Linked DNA regions of Homo sapiens. The protein of the gene in region 1 interacts with the protein of each later gene in a pairwise test. Each region holds a gene or a part of one and is shown in the gene's direction. Other genes may lie near its edges.

Region 1 (3,500 bases):
TTTATTTATTTTGAGACAGGGTCTTACTGTGTCACCCAGGTTGGAGTGTAGTGGTGTGATCATGGCTCACTGCAGCCTCAACCTCCTATGCTCAAGCAATCCTCCCGTCTCAGCCTCCCAAGTAGCTGGGACTACATGCACAAGCCACCACATCTGGTTGATTTTTAAATTTTATGTAGAGACAGGGTGTATTAGTCCATTTTCACACTGTTATAAAGAAATACCTGAGACTGAGTAATTTATAAAGAAAGAGGTTTAATTGACTCACAGTTATACATGGCTGGGGAAGCCTCAGGAAACTTACAATCATGGCAGAAGGCAAAGGGGAAGTAAGAACCTTCTTCACAAGGCAGCAGGAGAGAGAGAAGGGAAGGAGGAACTCCCAAACACTTGTAAAACCATTGGATTTCGTGAGCATTCACTAGCATGAGAACCGCATGGGGGAAACTCCCCATGATCCAGTTACCTCCCTCACTCAACACATGGGAGGGATTACAGGTTCCCTCCCTCCACAGGTGGTGATTACAAATCGAGATGAGATTTGGGTGGGGACACAGAGCCATAGCATATCACAGGGTCTCCCTTTGTTGCCCAGGCTATTGTCAAACTCCTGGGCTCAAGAGATCCTCCCATCTCAGCCTCCCAAAATGCTGGGATTATAGGCAAGAGCCACTTTGCCAGGCCAGGAGCTTAAAATTTTAAACTGTTAAAATGAGTTTCTTTAATGCATTGAGTTTCCTTTATTGAATTTCTTTTTGAACGTTGGCTAATGAGCCGAGGAATCATGCAAAGCTTTAAATTACAGATTCAGTGGGTGTTACAGCTAAAGCCTGGGAAGAAAAATAAAATGAGTGAAATACGTCCATTTTAGATTTGTTCAGTTCAACAAACATGTATGAGAAACAACAAAAAGCATGTATTAAAGAGCCTGCTATGGCTGCAGCGCTGTGTCATGGAGAATCTAAATATTAGCATCCCTTCTTGCAGACAGAGTTGAGTAGTTTTAGATGAGATTCCTTAATTGGGAGGGATTTTGGACCACAGAATAATCTCTAGGGTGCTTTTCAACTCTCAGATTATATAATTATGTTGGAAGGGAAGTAATTTGTTAGTTCCAGGAGAACTTTTATGTTCTCAGTAGATGTGCCAGAAGCATTAGCTGCCACACATTGTGGGAATGTAAAATTCCAACCGAATAAGGCATTCAACCCAATTAAAAAAAATTTTAATGGGCACTAATGGCCTTAATCAAGATAGAATAGTTTACAGAATATTATTAGCATTAATACAGTAGTAATATAAGTATAAATAGGACCTTGATTTATAAATTTAAGCAATGTCAAGAAGCATACATGGAATGTGAAGAAAAAGAGATGAAAATACAGCCATGTGTCGCTTAACGTTGGGGATACGTACTGAGAAATGCATCATTAGGTGATTTTGTTGTTGTGTAAACATCATAGAATGTACTTACACATACCTGGATGGTATAGCCTACTGCACATGTAGGCTATATGGTATAGCCTATTGCTCCTAAGCTGCAAAACTGTACAGCATGTGACTGTACTGAATAAATAGGCAATTGTAATGCAGTAGTATTTGTGTATCTAAACATATCTAAACAAGCAAAGTACAGGAAAAATACGGTACAAAAAATAAAAAATGGTTCACCTGACCAGGACACTTATTATGACTGGAAGTTGCTCTGGGTGCATCAGTGAGTGAGCGGTGAGTAAATGCGAAGGCCTAGGGCATTACTGTACACTACAGAAACACTGTACAGCTTAGGTTGCACTAAATCAAAAAATTATTTTTCTTCGATAATAAATTAACCTTAGCTTACTGTAATTTTTTTACTTTATAAACTTTTACATTTTTTAACATTCTGACTCGTTTGTAATACTTAGCTTAAAACACATTGTACAGCTATATAACAATATTTTTCTCTTTCTTTCCTGTCATACTAAAATCACTTTTTTTTTTTTTTTTTTTTTTTAAAAAGAGATGAGATCTTGCTCTGTTCCCCAGGCTGGTCTTGAATTCCTGGGCTCAAGTGATCCTTCCACCTCAGCCTCCCAAGCAGCTAGGACAACTGGTGTATGCCGCCATGCCTGGCTAATGTTTTCTTCATTATATCTTTATTCTAGAAACTTTATTTAAAAATATTATTTAGTATTTGTTTGTTTTACTTTTTGTTCCTCTGGCTACCCATATTTTACTTTTTAAGCTTTTTCTTTGGTTGAAAACAAAGACACAAACACACATTAACCTAGGCCTACACAGGGTCAGGATCATCAGTATCACTGTCTTCCACCTCCACATCTTATCCCACTGGGAGGTCTTCAGGAGAGTAACAGGCGTGGAGCTATCATCTCCTATGATAACAATCCCTTCTTCTGAGACTGTTTTACAATTAACTTTTTAAAAAAATAGAATACACTCTACAGTTAAACAATAAAAAGTACAGTATAGTAAATACAGAAACCAGTAATAGTCATTTACTATCAAGTATTATGTACTGCACATAATTGTATGTGCTACATTTTGTTGTTGTTGTTTTGAGACAGGGTCTTACTCTGTTGCCCAGGCTGGAGTATAATGGTGTGATCACAGCTCACTGCAGCCTTGACCTTCTGGGCTTAAGCGATCCTCCCACCTCAACAAGTATCTGGGGCTCCAGGCACATGCCACCATGCCTGGCTAATTTTTGTATTTTTTTGTAGAGATAGGGTTTCGGCATGTTGCCCAGGCTGGTCTTGAACTCCTGGACTAAGGCAATCTGCATCCTCAGCCTCCCTAAGTGCTGGGATTACAGGCATGAGCCACCGTGCTCAGCTGTGCTAGACTTTTATATGACCGGCAGCACAGTAGGTTTGATTGTGTACTCACCATAAACACATGAGTAATGCATTGTGCTGTGACACCACAGCTATGATGGGATAGGAATTTCTCAACTCCATTATAATCTCTTGGGACTACTCTTGTATATGTGGTCTGTAGTTGACTGAAATGTTATATAGTCCATGACTATATTAGAAGGTAATAGATCATGGGTAGCCAAACCTATCATTCTAGGTTTTTTTTTTCCCCAGCCCCAGAAAACTTTATTTATAGACCAGCAATGAGAGGCTGAAATTCTGATCCAGGTTAGGATGTGTCAACATAGCAAATTTATTGAACACTCATTGAGTGCCAAGTTCTGTGATACTGTTATGAAGGAGACAGACATGCAGGGAGCTTAGAGTCTAATGGGAGAGATGGAAGAACAAACAGACCAAACAGCATGATGAAAATGATTACCTTTTCTTTTTCTGGCTTCTCTTCTTGTTGACAAACAAAAATTAACAGGAAAAAACTTCCCACTTAAAAAGTTGTACTGATTGTTATTGGTATGTTGATAACATCTTTAAATTGGGTATTTGTGGTAACTAACATTTATTACAGTAGTTTGAACCTGATATACAGTTTCTTAACCAACCACCACTTTAACCAGCTTGGTA
Region 2 (4,472 bases), on another chromosome or scaffold:
AATCTGTACTGTGTTGTAATGAACTTTGTTTTCTAAAACCCTGGCCAACATGCCGGTGCAGCTGCTCAGAGCCTCCCCAGGCCTGGCCGCCCAGTGTGCACGGTGGCCAGCTCACAGAGAGACGGTCCCCAGCATGCTGGCCTGGCGCCACCACCGCACATGGACAGGGCAGCCAGTCCTGGGCATGGAGCTTCCCCTAGACAGGGACAGATCCAGAGCATCCCCGGGACCAGGGAAAGCGGCCACAGGGAGGGAAATGGGGGGGCTGTTCTGTGGGCTCCTGCAGTCCAAGTATGCCTTGTACAGAGCCCGGCCCGGGGGGGTGCACGGGAAGCGGCCCAGACCCAACCCAACGTGCTCTGGGGCTCAGCCTCAATGTTTTCAGGGTACAGGGGTAACAAGAAGGAACAGCTTCCCTGCTCTGTGATCTTGGAGGAGGGGTCCTCAGAGGGGTGTGGTGGGACACACTCTGGGCACCCCATAGGAAAACAGGCACAGAAGGGAGCTTTGGGCTCAAATAGGGAAGAGGGGTTCTCATGGGGAATGGTAGGGTGAGCAGATTACTCATCTTGGGGAGCCAGTCTCGGTCATCCAGGGGCTCCCAGGGAGACCCCACCTACACCCACTGGGCAGAGAACACCCAGAGACAGGTTTCAGCTCCATCAGCGGGACCTTTCCAGTGTCTAGAGCGGGCTGGACGGCACACGGCCTGCATTCTGGATGACCCTCCTCAGGGGACGCCACGGAGAGGATGTCTGCCCTGGGTGGGGGTGGACGCCACGACCTTCCAACATCCCTTCCAGCTCCAAGATTCCAAGCTCCAGTCTGGAGCCAGGGCAGGAAGAGGGGACAGAGTCTGGGGCGCCAAGAGCTGGGAGGGGCCAGGAGCCCTGGAGAAAGGGGAGGCCCAAGGAGGTGGACTCACCCAAGGCCAGAGCTGGCCCCCAAACCCTGCCCGCGGTCCCCCACAGCGCTGCTCCAAGACCCCATCCCCCATCCTACACCCAGGCAGCTCGTAACTCTCTTTCCATCCTCTCTCTCTCTCTCTCTCTGAATCTCTCTCTGCAGAAACCACCCACCTTCACCATGTCTGACGAGGAAGTGTGAGTACCCAGCTGGTGGCTGCCCCCTGCCTGGCTCGGGACCCTGGCCCCTTGGCTTCTGTGGGGCTGGAGCATGCGCTATCTTGCACAAGTCCAAGCAAAGCCCAGCCTCACTACCTCTCTCTCTTTCTTTCTCTCTCTCTCCCTGCCCCACAGTGAACAGGTGGAGGGTAAGTGTAACAGCCATTTTCTTTCTACTTCCTGCTCTAGAAGGAAGGCTCACATGTGGGCAGGGGGCTGGACTGTGCATACCCTGTGTCCCCTTGACAGCCCTACATCAGCTGCATCCCATGGGTGGCTTCTGAGTGACCCCCGGAAAACAGCTGTCCAAGTGGGGGGCCTCGTCTTTTCCCCGAAGTGTGGCCACATGGTCCTGAGGGGCCTGCAGGTCAGGCTCTGGGTCCTGTCTCTCTGCTTCTCTCATGCCCACTGTGGGACGTGGGCATCCAGGACCCCCGAGCCCCCCAAAAGCCACCATCATCACCAGAGCCTCTGCCTTCCCCAGCGCCTCCTCAGGGCCCGAGGACCCCTGATTCCACGCTCTTGGGCAGGGGCAGTCGCTGGCCTGTCCAGGGCCGGGACACACTGGCCTCTCATCCTCCTCCTCCCTTCACGGGCTGCCCCTTCTAACGTGGTTCCCCTCTTTGTTCTGTCCCAATGCAGAGCAGTACGAAGAAGAAGGTAATTCTGGCAACCACCGGAAGCCCCCCCAGCCCCTCCTTGGAACTTAACCCCCCTCTCCCGTGTGGCGCTCACAGAACCCCCTCCCCAGGCTGCTCCAGGCCGCCTTGAGCTTGTCAATCAACCTTCCATCTTCCTCATCATTAGTCACTAACAATCACCATTCATCATTAATTAATGATAAATGAGGCCACCACTTAATTAATGATGGATGAGTCATTAAATCATCACTAACCCCTGTCTCTTTAATCGATTAATATGCATTCACGATCCTTCATTAATCCTTCATCCTCCGTGTGCCATGGTGTGTGGAGTTCACTGGGGCTGGTCATGAAGGCCTCAAAACACCGAGTGCCCTGCGTGCCCAGTGCTGCTGTCTCTCTGCCTCTCTCTCTATCTCTACCCTCCCGGCATCTCAGAGTCTCTCCATCTCTCTCCAGTTCCTTTCCGTGTCTCTCTTGGCAACTTTGTCTCTCTGTGTGCCTGTGTATCTCTCAGCTTCTCTCTGTCTCTGTATCTTTCAGCCTCTTGGTCTCTGTCTCTCCCTGCCTCTCTCTCTCAGTCTCTGTCTTTCTTGGCCTCTCTGTCCCCATTTCTCCACCTCCATCTCCATCTCTGTCTCTCTGTGTCTCCATCCCTCCATGCCACCCCCCAACCCTGTGCTGTAACCCTGGGTGGAGCCTGGAGCCCCCTCCCTGTGCTGGCCAGGTGTGGTCTGTGGGCGTCTCCATCGTGCCCGGGCAGGCGTGGGCGGGTGTGGGCGCACCTGGGAACCGTGTGGGGTGGCGGTTCTCAGGCCGACGGCGCTGCCCTGGAATCCCTGGCACCCACTCAACTGGGGAGCGCGTTCACGCAACCTTAGCAGGCAGGGCTGTCCTGTGAGGAGTCCTGAGTGCTATGTTTTGAAAATATTTTGAAAACACTTGGCTACCCTAACAACGTGAGCAAAACATTTATTTTTCTGCCGAAAAGGTGGAAAGACTCATTTCTGCGAGGGAAATATGGCACTGGGGAGCCATCTTTTCTCTTGGGGCAGCCACGTGGCAGGCCGGGAGGCCACGGAAGGGTCTTCGTGCGACATGTCTCTGAAGACCCCTCAGTGCCAGCCTTGTTTCCGGGTGCACTCAGAGCCGGGGCTTCCCGCAGGCCCTGTGGGTTCTGTCCCCGTTCTCACTTGTGTCACCTGCAGAGCAGGACTTAACAAGGGCCCCCGTGCACAGGCGCCTCCAGGCATGGGAATACCAGGCCCCCAGGAGGGTGGGAGGGGCCTCAGAACCCCTCTCAGGGGCCGGGCCCAGCCCAGCTGACAGTGACCAGCTCTGCTGGTGGGAGTCCGTGCTCCCCGGGGCTGGCCAGAGATGCAGGACTGAGCCCCATCTTTCACCCCTGCCAAGCGAGCCCCAGGCCCTCTTCTCCCGGCCAGCCGGCCTCCTGTCCTTGCGGCCTGAGTACACTCTGATCACTGTCTCTGTTCCCTGTCTCCCTCAACCCCGCCTTCTCCTGCTCCTGGCTTCTCCGGCTCTCAGAGGAAGCCCAGGAGGAAGGTAAGTGGGGTCCAAGGCCCCGGCCCCCATGCCCACTCCCCAGCCTTCCCGCCCCACCCAAAGTTGACCTCCACCCCGCCTCTAAGGATTGCTGTGTGCCCCTGTCTAACCCTCTCCTCTCTCCCCCGGCTCTCCTCAGCTGCAGAAGTCCATGAGGAAGGTATGAGGACACAGGACTTCTTGTCCCCATGTGGGGCCCGGGGCCTGGCTGGAGCCCATGTGGGGGTGGGGGAGAGGGGGAGAGGGTGGGGAAGCCACGAGGTACCAGCCAGCCAAGGGGCCCCCACATGTGGCCCTAATGTAACCCACTAACCGCGGCCAATGCTTGACCAGAGAGAGAATGGGGTCTCGAGGGTGGGCCCCCTTCCCCACAGCCCCCCAGGCAGTAGGGCCAGGGACTCCCCAGGCAGGTGCAGGCTGGGCTGCTGGTCAGCAGGGTGTCCCCAAGCATGGGGCAGAGGGGACACGTAGGCCCACCCTAGTCCTCCACCCCAGGGTAGGCAGTCCAGAGCCCGTGGTGGCGTCGACCCCTGGGCCTGGCCAGGACGCCCGCCACATCTTGGGATGGCACAGAGTGAGGGGAGAGAAGGCGGCTGGGGGCAGAACCCTGCAGCCTGGCACAGTCAGCTCCCTCGTGAGCATGCCCTCGTCAGCCCCCCAGGCCCCCTCACAGCCTTCTGCTATGAGACCCTTGAGGTGCACACAGGCTGGGAGCAGATGGGAGGGCTGGGGTCCCATGCCCAGATCAGCAGGCAGAGCCATCACTGGTGCCCAGGGCTGCCAGCACCCTTGGAGGGTGGAAAGAATTCCATCAGGGAAAGAACGAGTGGGCCCCCAGCGTTGGGATGGCAGGAAGTGGGGGTCCTGGGGACGCCTTCCATGGCCCATCCATGGCTCTGCCTCCCAGGGCTACCAGCACTGCCTTTGTGGGCCCTTGGTGCCACCCGGCCAGGCTACAACCTCGCACGTGGGCCTTGGTGCCCCGGCCAGAGGCGCGGACACCCTTCTGGGGGCGCCCCAGGACAGACAGGGGATGGGGGCGAGCAAAGGAAGGCCCAGCCCCAGTACTGAGCCTGCTCCACCAAGGACAAGAGCCACAGCTCCCGGCCATCCTCTGAGCCTCAGTTTCCCCACCTGGGGTGCT
Region 3 (5,172 bases), on another chromosome or scaffold:
TATTTCTCTCTCTCCCCTGAAGCTGGATGCCGTAAATTCTGAGCCAACTCCTTTTCTTTTAGGCAATGTGATTATTAAATACCTGTCCCCCTTAAGTTTCACTTATCTCTCTCTCTCTTATCTCGTTTTCTCTTATAACTTGATTTTTCCCACCAGCTTTCAGATGTGGGCTGGAACCAGTATTTTATTTACAATCTCTCTGTTTTTGGCTTCATAAATTTGGGGAAATGCAACAGATGTGTGCTGCTTTCCCAGGAAGCACATCTTTAGTTTTTTCATGCTTTAACTACACAGTCTAATTCGGCTTGCCTAAATGCTTATTCAATAACGACTTTGAGTTCTTGCAGGTAGCAGAACCTAGCTGATACAGGTATATTAGGCCTTACACCAAGGTCAAAGCAGGAGGAGGTGCCATTCACCTTTAAAAAAATGTGGTCACTTTCATTTAGTGCCAGGTGTTGTTCTAAGCACCAGGGAAATAACAATGAACAAGAGAGCCACCATCCCTGCTTTTGAGGAGTGCACATTCTGAAACATTCATTTCTGCAGAAAATATATAATGAGAACTTATGACATGTTAGATATTGTTCATCATTAAACAAAACAGAAACAATCTGCACTGATGGTTTTGTTGTGTGCGTGGGTGGTGGCAGGAGAGGGGGAAGAATACAGTACACATAAGTACATTAAAAGAATCCTGTTAAAAGGTGGTAAGTGCTATGGAAAAAATGAAGTAGGGTAAGGCGGATTAGGAATATTGGAATGATTTACAAATTTAAATAGGATGGTCAGGGTAGGTGATACTTGAACGAAGACTTGAAGGAAAATGAGGAAGGGAGCCTCAATATTTGGGGGATGAGCAAGTCCAAAAGCCCTGGGACATGAGTGTACCCTGCTTTTTCAAGGAGAGCCAGGAGGCCATTTCAGCTGAAGAAGAGTGAGGAAGGTGAGAACAGGAGGAAATGTGGCTGGGGGTAGATCAAATGGAGCTTTTATGCTGCGTGAAACGAGAAATTAATGGAAAGTGCTGAGCAAAGAAGTGACCTGGTGTCACGCTTCAAAGGACTGGTCTGGCGGCTTTGTTCAGGCTGGACTGTGCAGGTGCGGGATGGTGAGGGGATATTTGGGGGGCTGCTGTAACCACACGGGTGGGGTGGTACAACCCTCTGATGCACATCAGAGGGTAGGAGGTGGAGGTGGTGTGACACGGCCAGATTAGGGGTCTATTTTGGAGGCAGGGCCAACAAGATTTTGCTGGCAGATTAGATGTGGGGTGTGAAAGAGAAGAGGCAGGGAGGATTCCTAAATTTTGCCTCTTAAGAATAGAGTAGCCATTGATTGAGATGGCAAAGAAGACTGGTGGAGAACGTTTTTGCTTTGCTTCGGTGCATTGGGAGTTCCAGGAGTTCCGTTTGGACGTTAAGTTTGAAGGGGCTATTTACTATCCAAGCGGAGCGGAGAGCTGGATTTTGAAGCTCTCTGGGAACATACTTTTGGGGACATTTCTAAAGCTTGAGACCCTGTTCCAAAGCCTCGAAGACCCTGTCGAGGTTCTTCCGGAGCCGGCCACGTCCCTCTCTTCTCAGCCCTCCTAAATTAAGCCGGAAAATCCCTGGGACAGTAGCCCCTTTATTCGGCAAAGCCCTTTTTCCTCTTTGAGGAATGACGACAAAAACGAACAAAAATGAAGACACTCAGCAGCACTGCGTCCTTTCCCCGCTCGCTGCAGGGAGAGGCAATGCGGACTGGTGTGGAAGGGCAGGCCCCGCTCTGGGCCGCAGGCGCTGCGGCCGCGAACCCCAGGTCCGGGAGTGTGGGCGGGGCCTGCGTGTGGGCGGGGCCGCGGCGCCAGCGCCCGCCACGGGCGAGGGCGTGGCCGACCCGGCGCTAGCCCGCCCGCCCGCCCGCCGGCTCTCGCGCCTCCTTCGCGCCGGCCCTTCCGCGGGTGATCAGCTGGTCTGCGCTCCCCTGACGTGGGCTGGGGCACGTCACCGCCGAATGGCAGCCTCCAGAAAGCCACCGCGAGTAAGGTGAGGGCACTCCGCCGGCAGCCGGCGTCCGGGCAGCGTGCAGCCCTCGCTGCGCGGCCGCGCGTGTTGCACCTCGGCGGGCAGGGACGCGCGGGTGAGGAGCCCGGCCCGCCGCAGTCTGGCGAGGGCCGCGCTCGCCGGAGCCCCGGAACAGGAGCCGGGGGAAGGGGTCCATGAGGCCGGGCGAGATCCGGTTCGTTTCCGGAGGGTCGGTGGGCACGGGGCGGCCCGAGTCTGGTTCCTGGACGCGTATGCCCGCGGAACTGCTGCACTCGGCCTGAGGGGGCGGCGGCCGTCACAGTTCCTGGCCCGCGGGAAGGCCCCGTTCTTGGAGGAAGTTGGCCCCTCTTCGTGTCCGGGGAGGTGGGCGAGCCTTTGCCCTCGCTTCTGTTACCCAGGAATCTAAACCTCAAGTTACAATCTCGACAATACTGACTCCTGCAATTCACTCTACTGATCTGTCACCGCCACAAGGATAGACGGTCGCGGGCCCCTCCCTACCCAAATGGTTTCAGAGGCTGTGTAAGGGAATATTTTGGTATAATCTCCAGGAAAATCCCCCCAGTAGCCTGCCCTGGGCTCTCCTTGGGCATAGGAGGGTGAGACAGATAATTTCCCGGCCTCAAGTTAAACATGTTTTAGTTTATTCCCCTGCCATAACCAGGATGTACTTATCAGAGCCTCTGACAAAGTGGGAGACGGAGAGAGGTGTTCAGAGTTCATGGAGGCCACAGGCCAGACTCCCTGGCCATCCCCAAGGGGTCACCCACCTGCTAACCACTTGAGACATGAATGCACTCACTTTGCAGCATGGCCAGGCTTTCTTGCTGAACACAGACCATGGCTCCTGCTTGTGTTTGTGAGTAGGGGGGTCCCAAACCTACCTTGACCTGGATTTGCCGTTGCCACAGCTTGTTAAGGGTGAGCAGAAAACCAGACCCACCCTGTGGAAGTATGTGGGAGGGGTGGAGAACTTCCATCTGGAAGGAGCTTCCTGTAAGTGAAGTGCTGGAAATGGAGTCAGGCAAGTGGATAATGATGAGTTAGGCTGTAGGCCTCAGGTGGTCTTTAGGGGGCCAAGGTGATCTGTGCTAGATTTATAGACTCACAGCCTTTTAGGAGCAGAAGAGTCTTTTCTACACCAGCTGGTAGAGTCTTTTTTACCTCAAAGGAAAGTCCAGTGAAAGGCTGAGAGAGGGGAAGCCATTTTCCACAGGCGCCTCCCCTACTGGTAGAATTTGAGTGCCATTCCTTGTAAAAGTGAGCACTTCTTTCAGTTTCGGTAATGGAAACTGAACTCAAATTGATTTACCTAAAATGGGGTTGAGCTGGCTTCTAGTGTGGCTGAATCCGGGAGCACCACCAACATTGGCTTCAGACTTCTCTTTATCATCTCTTGGCTCTGATTTATTCAGTATCCGCTTCATTCTCAGGGAGACTTTCTCCTTATGGCAGGTTATGACAGTTCTAGGCTGACAGCCCCAGCAGAGAAGTTGAGCCCTCCTTCCTAATGGAGCAGAAGTCCCTGATCTGATGCTCACTGGGCTGCCTTAATTCTCATGTTCATCTGTGAACCAATCATTATGGCCAGAGGGAGGGATTGACCTGCTTTGGGTCCCAGAGCCTGTTAGGTGTTTGGATAAGACTGCTTTGAACCCCTTGGGCTGAAATGGAGAGGGTACATTCTCAAAAGGAAAACCAAGGTTCCCATCAAAAGGAGGGATGGATTCTGGGTAGACAAAGACAACATTGCTTACTTCCCAACCTTAGAACTTGTTCCAGTTTACCCTTGTCTCATCCACTAGGTGTGATTGAGCATCTTGTTCCTTGTTTTGCCCCATGCTGAACGCTACACATGTGTGATTCCCATGAACTGGGGGTTGCAGGGGGGTGAGGTATTCAGAACCCTGCCAGAATTTCTTGGAAAAAGAGGGAGAAGGCCTTTTCTAGTGCTACCATAACCATCTTATACAAAGATTGAAAGTGCTCTGCATGCTTCTTGCCCCTTACCCACTTTGTGGCTCATCATGAAGTTGAGAAGGTGTAGGTCGAAGAAGTTCTGGGAAGGGTAGGAGCACTGAGCTGGATGTTGGGAGGCTGGAACGCTGGTTCTAGCTCTGTCAGCAGTTAGCTGTGAGGCCTTGAGCCAGTCATTTGATCTTTGTTTCTTGGTTTCCTGGTCTAGAGGAGGGAATTGAGTTGGATAGTCCCTGAGGTATATTCTTCTAGTTCTTAATATTTAATGATAATTGTGCTTTGACAGAGAACTTAAGAATTTTATCTGTCCAAACAAGTGAAAGGTGGATAGATCTTGGACTCTGCGGAGACCAAGATACGACAAGAACAGAGCAGCTGTAGTATTGAGCTGCTTCGTAGCTCCTGTGATCCTGACAGAAAGGTGGAGGTGTTGATGCTCACACAGAGAGTTTGAGCTCACCTGTCAGACCTAGTTTCTGGTCTTGGCTTTGCGGCTACTGAGTTATATGGCCTATGGTAAGTTATCTTTGTTTTTTTATTCTGTAAAATGAATGAATAGGATTACCTTAAGGTAACCTTGGCTAGGCACGGTGGCTCACACCTATAGTCCCAGCACTTTGGGAGGCTGAGGTGGGAGGATCACTTGAGGCCAGGAGTTTGAGACCAGACTGGGCAATGTGGTGAGATCCTGTCTCTTCAGAAAATTATTAAAAAAAAAAAATCAGGTTGGTGTGATGGCACATACCTGTAGTCCTAGGTCCTTGGGAGATTGAGGCAGGAGAATTGCTTGAGCTTAGGAGTTTGAGGCTGCCATAAGCTAAGATTGTGCCACTGCACTCCAGCCTGAGTGACACAGCAAGACCCTGTCTCTAAAAAAATGATAACCTTCCACCTCTGTAGTCATGTGTCTGAACCAGTCATTGGGATCAGTTACTTACCATCTTAGAAACTTACGTATGAAGTAATGGGAAATTCGGTGAGAATCTGACTTGTATCCCTGTCCACAAGAAAGAGATGTTATAAAATTTATAATGGCTTTATTGAGATATAATTCACTTATATACAATTCATCTGTTAAAATGTACAATTCAAGTTATTAGTATAGTCACAGAGTTGTACAACTATCATCACAATCATTTTAGAACATTTTCTTCATCCCCGAAAG
Region 4 (4,472 bases), on another chromosome or scaffold:
CCATAGCTGGCCCCAAGAAATCATCCTCAATCCAGGTGGATATTTCAAAGCACAGGTGCTGTGTTATGTGCTCTTCATGCTTGGCCTCATTCATTCATTTCTTAGGAATTAGTACTTACTATGTGCTAGACACTGTTCCCAGCTCCAAGGAAAACAGAATTCTAGCAGTGATTCCTAGTCTTGGCTGCATACTGAGATCACCTGGAGAGCTTTTCTTTTTCTTTTTCTTTCTTTTTCTTTTCTTTTTTTTTTTTTTAAGAAACACAGATGGAAAACTTAATGTTATGTTTTTTATCCGTCTCTGAAGCCAGCATCATACTTGATGGTGAAACTTGAGTATTTCCAGCTAAGATGGGGTTCCAGGCATGTTTGGGATAACCACCCGAGTCTACTATGTGGAACCCTTCTTCTCTGATGGGTAGAGAGCCCTAAACCCTCCTGTTCTGGACTCCATGACTCTCAGTCACTTTCTCTCTAGAACGATCTTCTTGGTATCTAGGACTCAGTCCTATTTGTTTTGAGATTGATTCCAAACTTGATTCCCTCCCCTCTTATCCCTGCAGGGCAGACCAGACCAGTCTGTGGCCATGGCTCCTTACTGGCGGCAGTGAGGGCATGTGGGCTGCTTCCAACCACTCCTGCTTTTCTTCTTTCCTTTTCAAAATTCCTCCCCTTCCCCCTTTAGGGAGCCTCCCTCTTGCCCACTGTGGTGAGGAAGGGAGAAGAGACTCTGTTCCCAGGACCAGCTGCCCCTGATGGGTTTCATATTTTTTGTGGGGAGCTTCTCTTCCTAGATAATAAACACAAAGTGATAACATTAGAACATTATTAGAATGTCACCATTTTGCAACCCCTTAGTAAAATAGTGGGTCGAAGTAATAGTCTTCAGTGACTGCCAACATCACAGAAAGACAACTGGACATTATTTGCCTTCTGTGGGAAGTGCACGCACACTCTCATGGCAATCTTGCCAAAAAATAGCCTGTATCTAATCAGGTTTATGTCCTGAACCACCGCGGTATCAAAAATACAGAGTTCATAGGACTCTATTCAATAACACAGGGGTGTAATCAGCAACATCCGTACTGGAAATCTACAGGACAACCTGATTTCTTCAACACATGAACTGCAAAGAAAAAAAAATACCTGTATCTCTACTGAGATTTGCAGATGATAGAATGCCTGGGATCTGCTTTACACAGTACCCTGCAGGGGGAGGTTTGGGAGTGTGAGTGATACAAATGGCTGAGCTGATTACTGGGGAAGCGGGAGGTGGGTCTATGGGCCCATCGGACCGTTCTCTCTATTGTGGTGTGTACATGAAAGTTTCTATGATGAAAAATACGCAGGGGTCGCCCACGTTTATTTTGATCACGAAGTTGGTTTTCTCTGGGGCATATTACTGTGGGTTCTGAGGCTTTAGACACAATGGGAATGTGTCTACGATGTTTTGAGATCATTGAGACACCAACCTTTTTTTAGGTAGATTTTTTCTGAAACACCAACTTTAATCCATGAACAACCACCCAAGAAATGCTCAGATGCTTTTTACCTCTCCTTGCATTAGATACTTTGGGGACAAGTAATAGATTTGTAAAAACTGAAAGTAATGGAAGGAGGACAACAAGCCCTGAGACCGTCACATGTAATCATTGCTTTTCAGGGTCTGCAATGACCCGTGCCCGGAGCTTTCCAAGCAAAGCTCCTTTTGTTCCTTACCACAGACCTAAAAATGGACCTAAAAATTGCAGATGGGGAGATGGGGCATGGGGTGCAGAGGGAAGCAGGAGTGTGGACCTAGGTGGCCTCTGAGTTGGGAGCTCTGTATTGGGCCATCTGCTCCTGACCGAGAAGCAGCCCCGGGGTTGAGCTTGCTGAGATGATGTGGCTCCGATGTTCCACTTGCTTCAGACGGTTGTGATTCTTTGCAGGGCATGGCACAGGCACACAGGACCCCCCAGCCCAGGGCTGCCCCCAGCCAGCCCCGTGTGTTCAAGCTGGTTCTCCTGGGAAGTGGCTCCGTGGGTAAGTCCAGCTTGGCTCTTCGGTACGTGAAGAACGACTTCAAGAGTATCCTGCCTACGGTGGGCTGTAAGTGAGGGCAGAGCACCCCTTTGTTGGTCTTCAGTGCAGAAGTCTGGGCTGCTGACCCACACCTGGGGCAGATGGGGACGAGGCCCACCTAGGAATCCCCATGCTGGGACCTTGAGCTGCCTGTGTCCAGTGCGTGAGGGGAGGGGGTGAGGTCCAAGAGGGCAGCCACAGAATCTACAAAGACAGGAAATGCCCTTGGCTCTGGGTCAGGTTTCAGCTCAGCTGGAGTCTGCAGGGGGTGGAGATTCTGGGGTAGGACCTCTGGCCCCAAAGGGTCGGGCTGGGTGCGAGGGATTATGCTGGTGGAAGGGACAGCCCGGAAGAAGCCTCCTGGGCCCTGGCCACTCAGCGGCCTAAACCAGCTGTCCTCTCCCACCACCCAGGCCGCCCTCCTGCTAACACTGCTCCCTTGCTTTATTTACCCCAACAGCATCTTCCTTCCTGCCTGGACTTGGTTTACCAGCTTGGCCTGGATTGGGGGTGGGAAGATCATTTTGGGGGTGGGCGGGGAGGGAGACCTTCTCTCTGTGTTTCTTAAAAAGGCTAACCTGTCATGAAGCTCAGGAGTAACTGTATGGGGCATCTGCAGGCTGCTGGCCTCCTTCCCATCCTGCTGTGGGCACAGTCTGCCTAGGCAGTGAAACCCAGTTTTCACCTGAAATGGGGAAAGCCAGCGTGTTCTTTATGCCCATTCCCCCTGGGGGAACACATGCAGAATCAGAGCCTCGGTTTCAAATTCGGACTCTGACATGGATAAGCTGCACATCTCCAAATTCACTCATTCATTTACTCATCTAACAGGCATCTGTTGAGCATGAACCCTTTTGCAGGCCTGCGTTAGGTGGGATGGATTCTATAACCAGCTAAACAGATGCACCAAACACAGAAACACAATTGCAAGATGTGGCACATGACGTTAGCTATTTAGGGAGCCCTTCCATTTTCTCAGGGGGGTGGTTCCTGAAGGATCCCCAGGGGATACAGGGGAATTGGCAGGGGTCTGCCTGGCCCGACTCCCAGAGCTAGTGGTGAGAAGGGCCAGGGTGATGGTGAGAGGCTGTCTGCAGAGGGGGACCCTGGGGAGAGAGTCAAGGTTACCCTGTGGTGTGCAGTACAATCCTCTTCTCCATTAGCAAGGAGATCTGTACCCCTCACCCCCCAAGTCCTGATATTGGACTTGGCTTCCTTTAAAAATACATCAAAATGCCAAGGCTGGCCTGAGGGTGGCCTCAGTTGAGAATAGAGCACACAGATGGGGGCCTCACCAGGCCTGGATGTTGAGAGCTTTGTACCTGGGTGGCTGGTATTCAAGATGCAGAGAGAGGCAGCAGGTGTCAGGCCAGGTGAGCTGGACTGGGGATGGATCTCACTCTGACACGGAGGTCTGCACACTGTGGCTCTCTGGCTGTTCTTGTTGTTTTGTGAGTAAGGTTCTGTGGAGACACAACTCTACCTCTTCAGGTACTTACCCTCTGTAAATGATATTCTTGCTGTTCCTCCTCCTCTATTCACTCTAAAATGGCAGCAGGGTTGAGTGGTTGCAGCAGTGACCCCATGGCCAGTAAAACCTAAAGTATCTGCTACAGGGCCTTTTACAGAAGGACTCCATGACGCCACCCTAGCAGAGCCTGCAGGAGCCAGCGCCCAAAGGCACTCACTAGGTGAGCGCAAGCAGGGCTGAGAGATTCCGAGATGCCCGGTTGGAGCGTAGGAGGGTGCTTTGGATTCATTGAGACGTGCTTGGACGTGCTCAGCCCACAGAGAGCTGTACCCACAGAGCACCCACCTTTCTTGGGTGGGGGTGGGGGGGTGATGTGTGGGGTCTGTGAAGCTTCAGGGTGGTGCCGGGCATTCTGTATTTTACAGGTGAGGGGGATGGAGGCCCCGACAATGAGGCGCGAGGCCCTAGTTCCTTTCATTCCAGCAAGCCAGGGTCCGAGCATCCCCCTCACACCTGCCCTGCCTGTACCAATTGCCTGCCCTCTCTTCAGGGGGCCTACCAGGGTCGGGGGGTGAACAAAGCTGGGCTTGCTGGGGAGTCCTAGGCCAGGTTGGGGGTCTTTGCTTGGGGGGCAGGCCTGTATGTCTCACTCTACTCCTGGTCCTCTGTCTGGCCCCGCAGGGGCCATCCCCCTGCCGGCAGCTTTCAGATGAAAGCCAGGGCCTCCCTTCCTCCAAGCCCCTCTCTTCCAGGCCTGGGTTTATCTCCTCTCTCTGAGGGGAAGGACCGTTCTACAGGCTGGGCTCTGCCTTTCACCCAGAACTGGTGGGTGGAGTCTTTGTTCCCACTCTGGGTCTCTGTGATGGGGCCGGGGTGGGAGGCTGTGGGCTGTGGCCCGTGGCACAACGGGGAGAGGAGAACAGCCAGATTAGGTTAG
Region 5 (5,122 bases), on another chromosome or scaffold:
CTATGATGAGAGTAAAATGAAATTGCCTAAGGACTCATTTCTCAGAACATATCCCTGACGTGACTATACTTTCATAATTTTCACCTTTGGGACCAGCTTATGGTATTGGCAGGGGTCTCCCTTAAAACCAAACCAAATACACAACAAATAATGCTAAAAGGTAGAGGTTGGAAAAAAAAAAAAGTTTCACTCTCGCCCAGGCTGGAATGCAATGGTGCCAACACTGGACCAGACTCCTGGGCTTAAGCAATCCTCCCACCTCAGCCTCCTCAGTAACTAGGAATACAGGCCTGCACCACCATGCCTTTTTTTTTTCTTTTTTTTTTAAGAGATGGAGTCTCACTATGTTGCCCAGGCTGGTCTCAAACTCCTGGCATCAAGCAAGCCTCCTACCTCAGCCTCCCAAGGCTCTGGGGGCAGAAGCCACTGTGCTCAGCAGAGGTGGATTTTTAATGAGGGATAAAGCATATTTTTACTTGTTAGGGATTGTTTCATGCCTTGATCTCTGTCCGTCTGCCTAGTTCCAGAGAGAAATAACAGAGATGTTCTCATTCCCAGCAAACGTTTGTTTTTCCTTCCTTGGATTTCTGCCCTGAGTTTGTGGCTGCTTTCCTACAGTGCCGACCTAAGCTAGATAAAATAGAAATTTCATGACAAAACAAAGGAGATTTAAAAAAAAACTAGAAATTTCAAGAATGCTTCAAAATCTAAAGCGCAGAGTACTTTGCACACAGGGCAGTTATTCCTGCCACACCTTGCCACTACAGGTGGCCACTGTCAGAATGCGATGTTCCACCAATGTCTCTTCATTTCACAATTTGAAAAATTTTTTTTGTGGAGGCAGGGTTTTGTTATCTTGCCCAAGCCGGTCTCCAACTGCTGGCCCCAAGTGATCTTTCCTTGGCCTCCCAGCAGCCACTTGCCTGGCTTTCATTTCATACATCATTATTGAATAGCAGGCATTGTCCTATGTGCTTGGTAATACATCACTGAGCAAAACAGACAAAAAACGGCCATTGAGGATAATCCTCAATATATAATAATATATATATTATAGAGAGGATGTGGAATATACATATATATGTGTGTGTGTATATATAGAGAGAGAGAGAAAGACTCATTGTGTCACCCAGGCTGGAGTGCGGTGGTGTGATCTTGGCTCACTGCCGTCTTGACTCAGGTGATCCTCCCACCTCAGCCTCCAAGTAATTGGGACGACAGGCACGCGCCACCAGGACTGGCTAATTTTTTTGTAGAGACGGGTTTTCGCCATGTTGGCCAGGCTGGCCTCAAACAACCGGGCTCAAGTGATCCGTCCGCCTCGGCCTCCCAACTTGCTGGGATTACAGGCGTGAGCTACCGTGCCCAGTCTCTAGTGATTATATTCTTGCCCTGTTTAGCCATTATGTCTCTTTACTCACAACAGTTTATAAGTGAAACTTTGCCTTACCATTTGCATGAGTCGGCCTCAGCTTGTCATTATATATAAAGCTTACTAATGTAAATGACGAGTTAATGGGTGCAGCACACCAACATGGCACATGTATACATATGTAACGAACCTGCACGTTGTGTACATGTACTCTAGAACTTAAAGTGTAATACAAAAAAAAAAAAGTTTAAATATGATTGGACTCTACCCCAGAGCCCAGTTTTCCAGAAATTAGAAACAGATATGCCTAAGACCCAGAGGGTTATTTATTACTCAAATCTAAAACGTTGACTCAAAACCTCCCCTAATGCCCACCTTTGGCAAACGATGCTTAAACCTTTGCACGTGGCTTCAAAAATTACCTGGCTGGGAACGCGTAGCTCTGGCGGGGCACTCTGCCTCCAAGCCAAAAGGGGGCAGTGGACTCACAGAGCCGCTGCTCGGCCCTCCGATCCCTCCACCCCACCCTGGGAACGTCACGACCTCCTCTCGCCGCTTCTCCCCGTTGCTAATGCGCAGGCGCTGGCGGGATAGCGCGCCGCCGAGCCGAGAAAGAGGTCACGAACTCTGACCCCCCAGAAATACCCAAACACAGAAAGCTCTCTCCGCCGTGAATCTCGATCCCACATCCCGTCGGCTTTCTTCAACCTCTCTTCCCGGAGCGCCCCCCAATCCACGAGTGGCAGCCGCGGGACTGTCGCGTCGGCGCCCGACGCCGGAGTCAGCAGGGCGCAAAAGCGCCGGTAAGAAACGCTGGGTGGGGACACCAGCGACCGCGTCGGGGGCGGGGGCCAGGGGGTGCCCTTCACCCCAACCGCCAACGGACGCGGTCCCAGCGCATCCCCCGGCCGGCGTCCTGCGGCCAGCGGAGCCGTTCAGTTTGGGAGCGCCGCTTGGGGCTGCTCGACTTCGGCTGGGAGCGCGGAGCTGCGGCGCCAAATGCGCGGGGCCCCGGGAGAGGCGGGGGCGACAGGGGCGGCGGGACGCGGGGCCGGACGGCGAGCGGCTTGGAGCACACAACCCCCTTTCCAGCTGCGCTTACCGCAGCGCCTCTGACCTTTAACCTGCAGGGAAAGCTTCCGCGGCGCTGCAGCTTTCCCCGCCCGGGAGAGCCGCGCGCAGCGCCGGGGCTTCCAGGGCGCACGGCTAACGCCGGCACGAGTGAGACGTGGGAGAGGCCGACCCTCGGCTAGTGGCCGCAAGTCCCGGCCTGCATCCCGTCACTAACTCCCGTGCTTTCACGGGACGGACAGAATGACTCCCCCCACTTTCACTTTTCTCTCACGGCAAATCTGGCCAGGGTCGTCGCTGCCTGTGGGCCTGGATCTTTTCAGAAGAAATGGAACGGCCCCAGGGTTCTCACTGCAGGGGGCATGTCCAAGCTTCCGATAGATAGCTCTTTTGTTAAGAAATAATTCTTCCAACTCGGGCAGATACCATTTTTGTGCAGTACGAATGTTGCCAGGTTGTCCCATAATCTTCAGTAAGTAGGTCAGCCTTTAAAAAAGTAACCGGAAAGCAAAAGCAGAAAGACCTAAAATTACGGCCTTTAGGGTTTAGTACCGCTAGAATTTGTAAATGGACCTTCGATTTTGAGCTTTTTTGAACCATTTCTGCTGTGTGGTTGGTGATACTCGATTTTTTTTTCTTTTTTTTTTTTTTTTTTTGAGAGGGAGAGGGAGTCTCACTGTCGCCAAGCTGGAGTGCGGTGGCGCGATCTCGGCTCACTGCAACCTCCGCCTCCAGGTTCAAGCGATTCTCCTGTCTCAGCCTCCCGAGTAGCTGGGATTACAGACACGAGCCACCACACCCAGCTAGTTTTTTTGTTTTTGTTTTTGTTTTTGTTTTTTGTATTTTTAGTAGAGGTGGGGTTTCACTATGTTGGCCAGGATGGTCTTGATACTCTGACCTCGTGATGTACCCGCCTCTGATCCACCCGCCTCGGCCTCCCAAAGTACTGGGATTACAGGCGTGAGCCACCGCGCCCGGCCGATGATTGTTTTTAAACTTTGCTTTAAGTCCAGTTAGTATATCTGAAAAAGCGATGTGTATTTCTATCATTAAAAGTGGGTCGCGGCTGGGCGCGGTGGCTCACACCTGTAATCCCAGCACTTTGGGAGGCTGAGGTGGGCGGATCATCTGAAGTCGGGAGTTCGAGACCAGCCTGACCAACATGGAGAAACCCCGTTTCTACTAAAAATACAAAATTAGTCGGGCGTGGTGGCGCACACCTGTAATCCCAGCAACTCCGGAGGCCGAGGCAGGAGAATTGCTTGAACCCGGGAGGCGGAGGTTGCAGTGAGCTGAGATCGCGCCATTGCACTCCAGCCTGGGCAAGAAGAGCGAAACTCCGTCTCAAAAAAAAAAAAAAAAGTGGGTTTTATGAAATGTTGCTAATCTTAGTTTTTCAAGGGGCATGTTAGTTTCTTCTAGGAAAGGTTTTTTTGTTTTGTTTTATAGAAATGGTGGGGGGCCTCATTTTGTTATCCAGACAGATCTCTGGCCTCAAGCTATCCTCCTGCCTCAGCCTGTTGAGTAGCTGGAATTACAGGCACCGCATCTTAAGGAAGGATTTTGAGGGAGCAAACATCCCCAAACACACACCGTCTGTGTGTCTGCCACACAATGTATAATCCCTACTCTTGGGGAATAAAAACAAAACAGCATACAATAAATAATAGTATAAATATAATTCGTTGCCGTTTTTCAGTGACAAGACCATCTACAGCCTCTTGAAGTCTTTTATGAACTTGTCTAGAAAAATGCACCTTTAGATAAAATTTTACAGACAGTATTAGGAGTTAACAGAAATCTATTTCTGAATCCTAGCTAACAACCTTAGTCTACAAAATAATTGTTCGACCCTTCAAGAAAGACTGGGTAAAAAACTATTTGAATCAAAATTTTTTTTTTTTTTTTTTGAGACGGAGTTTTGCCCTTGTTTCCCAAGCTGGAGTGCAATGGCACGATCTCGGCTCACTGCAGCCTCCACCTCCCAGGTTCAAGCGATTCTCTTGCCTCAGCCTCCTGCATAGCTGGGATCACAGGCGCCGTCCACCACACCCGGCTAAATTTTTGTATTTTTCGTAGAGATGGGGTTTCACCATGTTGGCCAGGCTGGTCTTGGACTCTTGACCTCAGGTGATCCACGTGCCTTGGCCTCCCAAAGTGCTGGGATTACAGGCGTGAGCCATCGCCCCTGGCTTGAACCAAATCTTAAAAGTCAGGTGGAATTTAAATGAGGGAGAAAGTAGGAATATGTTGGGGGAATAAAGAACATCGTAGTTTGACCTGAACAGAGGCCCCTCTTGGGAGTGATAGGAAATGAGAATAGGGGGAAGTCGGATTATAAAAGAACTCTCCATTGTGGTGTTCACAGTGCCAGGCACCTTGTGAATGCATAATAAATATTGAATGAATACCAAGGGAAGGGGTTAAAACTTTGTTCCCTTGCCATTAAAGCAGCACTGATGGTCTGAAGCTGGAGAATAAGGATAAGTCGTTCTGTGAATGCCTGGCCCCTAGTAAGCATTCAACAAGTGATTTGTTGAATGGAAGAAAATTGAATAAATTTTTGAGCCAGTCAATATGAACATTTTTAAGGCTCTTGGTATACATTGGCAAATTACTTTTCTAGGAAGGTTAAAACAGTCTAACCTTCCACCAACAGTGTATAAAGAATGTGTGTGT

What was found.
Region 2: the proteins of NUDT3 (region 1) and TNNT3 interact in a two-hybrid assay, tested with the Homo sapiens proteins (one large-scale study listed by BioGRID and IntAct).
Region 3: the proteins of NUDT3 (region 1) and XPNPEP1 interact in a two-hybrid assay, tested with the Homo sapiens proteins (one large-scale study listed by BioGRID and IntAct).
Region 4: the proteins of NUDT3 (region 1) and RAB17 interact in a two-hybrid assay, tested with the Homo sapiens proteins (one large-scale study listed by BioGRID and IntAct).
Region 5: the proteins of NUDT3 (region 1) and NR2C1 interact in a two-hybrid assay, tested with the Homo sapiens proteins (one large-scale study listed by BioGRID and IntAct).

Annotation. Positions count from the first base shown.
Region 1 is NC_000006.12:34,386,170-34,389,669, reverse strand, and holds part of NUDT3 (diphosphoinositol polyphosphate phosphohydrolase 1), read left to right. Parts: intron 1-3,500. UniProt on the Homo sapiens protein: Cleaves a beta-phosphate from the diphosphate groups in PP-InsP5 (diphosphoinositol pentakisphosphate) and [PP]2-InsP4 (bisdiphosphoinositol tetrakisphosphate), suggesting that it may play a role in signal transduction.
Region 2 is NC_000011.10:1,921,789-1,926,260, forward strand, and holds part of TNNT3 (troponin T, fast skeletal muscle), read left to right. Parts: intron 1-1,042; exon of another isoform or gene 1,043-1,068; 5' UTR 1,069-1,086; coding exon 1,087-1,103; intron 1,104-1,259; coding exon 1,260-1,273; intron 1,274-1,766; coding exon 1,767-1,784; intron 1,785-3,310; coding exon 3,311-3,328; intron 3,329-3,467; coding exon of another isoform or gene 3,468-3,488; intron 3,489-4,472. UniProt on the Homo sapiens protein: Troponin T is the tropomyosin-binding subunit of troponin, the thin filament regulatory complex which confers calcium-sensitivity to striated muscle actomyosin ATPase activity.
Region 3 is NC_000010.11:109,920,260-109,925,431, reverse strand, and holds the start of XPNPEP1 (xaa-Pro aminopeptidase 1), read left to right. Parts: upstream 1-1,920; 5' UTR 1,921-1,998; coding exon 1,999-2,030; intron 2,031-2,185; exon of another isoform or gene 2,186-2,535; coding exon of another isoform or gene 2,536-2,552; intron 2,553-5,172. UniProt on the Homo sapiens protein: Metalloaminopeptidase that catalyzes the removal of a penultimate prolyl residue from the N-termini of peptides, such as Arg-Pro-Pro. Contributes to the degradation of bradykinin.
Region 4 is NC_000002.12:237,583,617-237,588,088, reverse strand, and holds part of RAB17 (ras-related protein Rab-17), read left to right. Parts: intron 1-1,931; 5' UTR 1,932-1,934; coding exon 1,935-2,091; intron 2,092-4,472. UniProt on the Homo sapiens protein: The small GTPases Rab are key regulators of intracellular membrane trafficking, from the formation of transport vesicles to their fusion with membranes.
Region 5 is NC_000012.12:95,070,433-95,075,554, reverse strand, and holds the start of NR2C1 (nuclear receptor subfamily 2 group C member 1), read left to right. Parts: upstream 1-1,936; 5' UTR 1,937-2,175; intron 2,176-5,122. UniProt on the Homo sapiens protein: Orphan nuclear receptor. Binds the IR7 element in the promoter of its own gene in an autoregulatory negative feedback mechanism. Primarily repressor of a broad range of genes.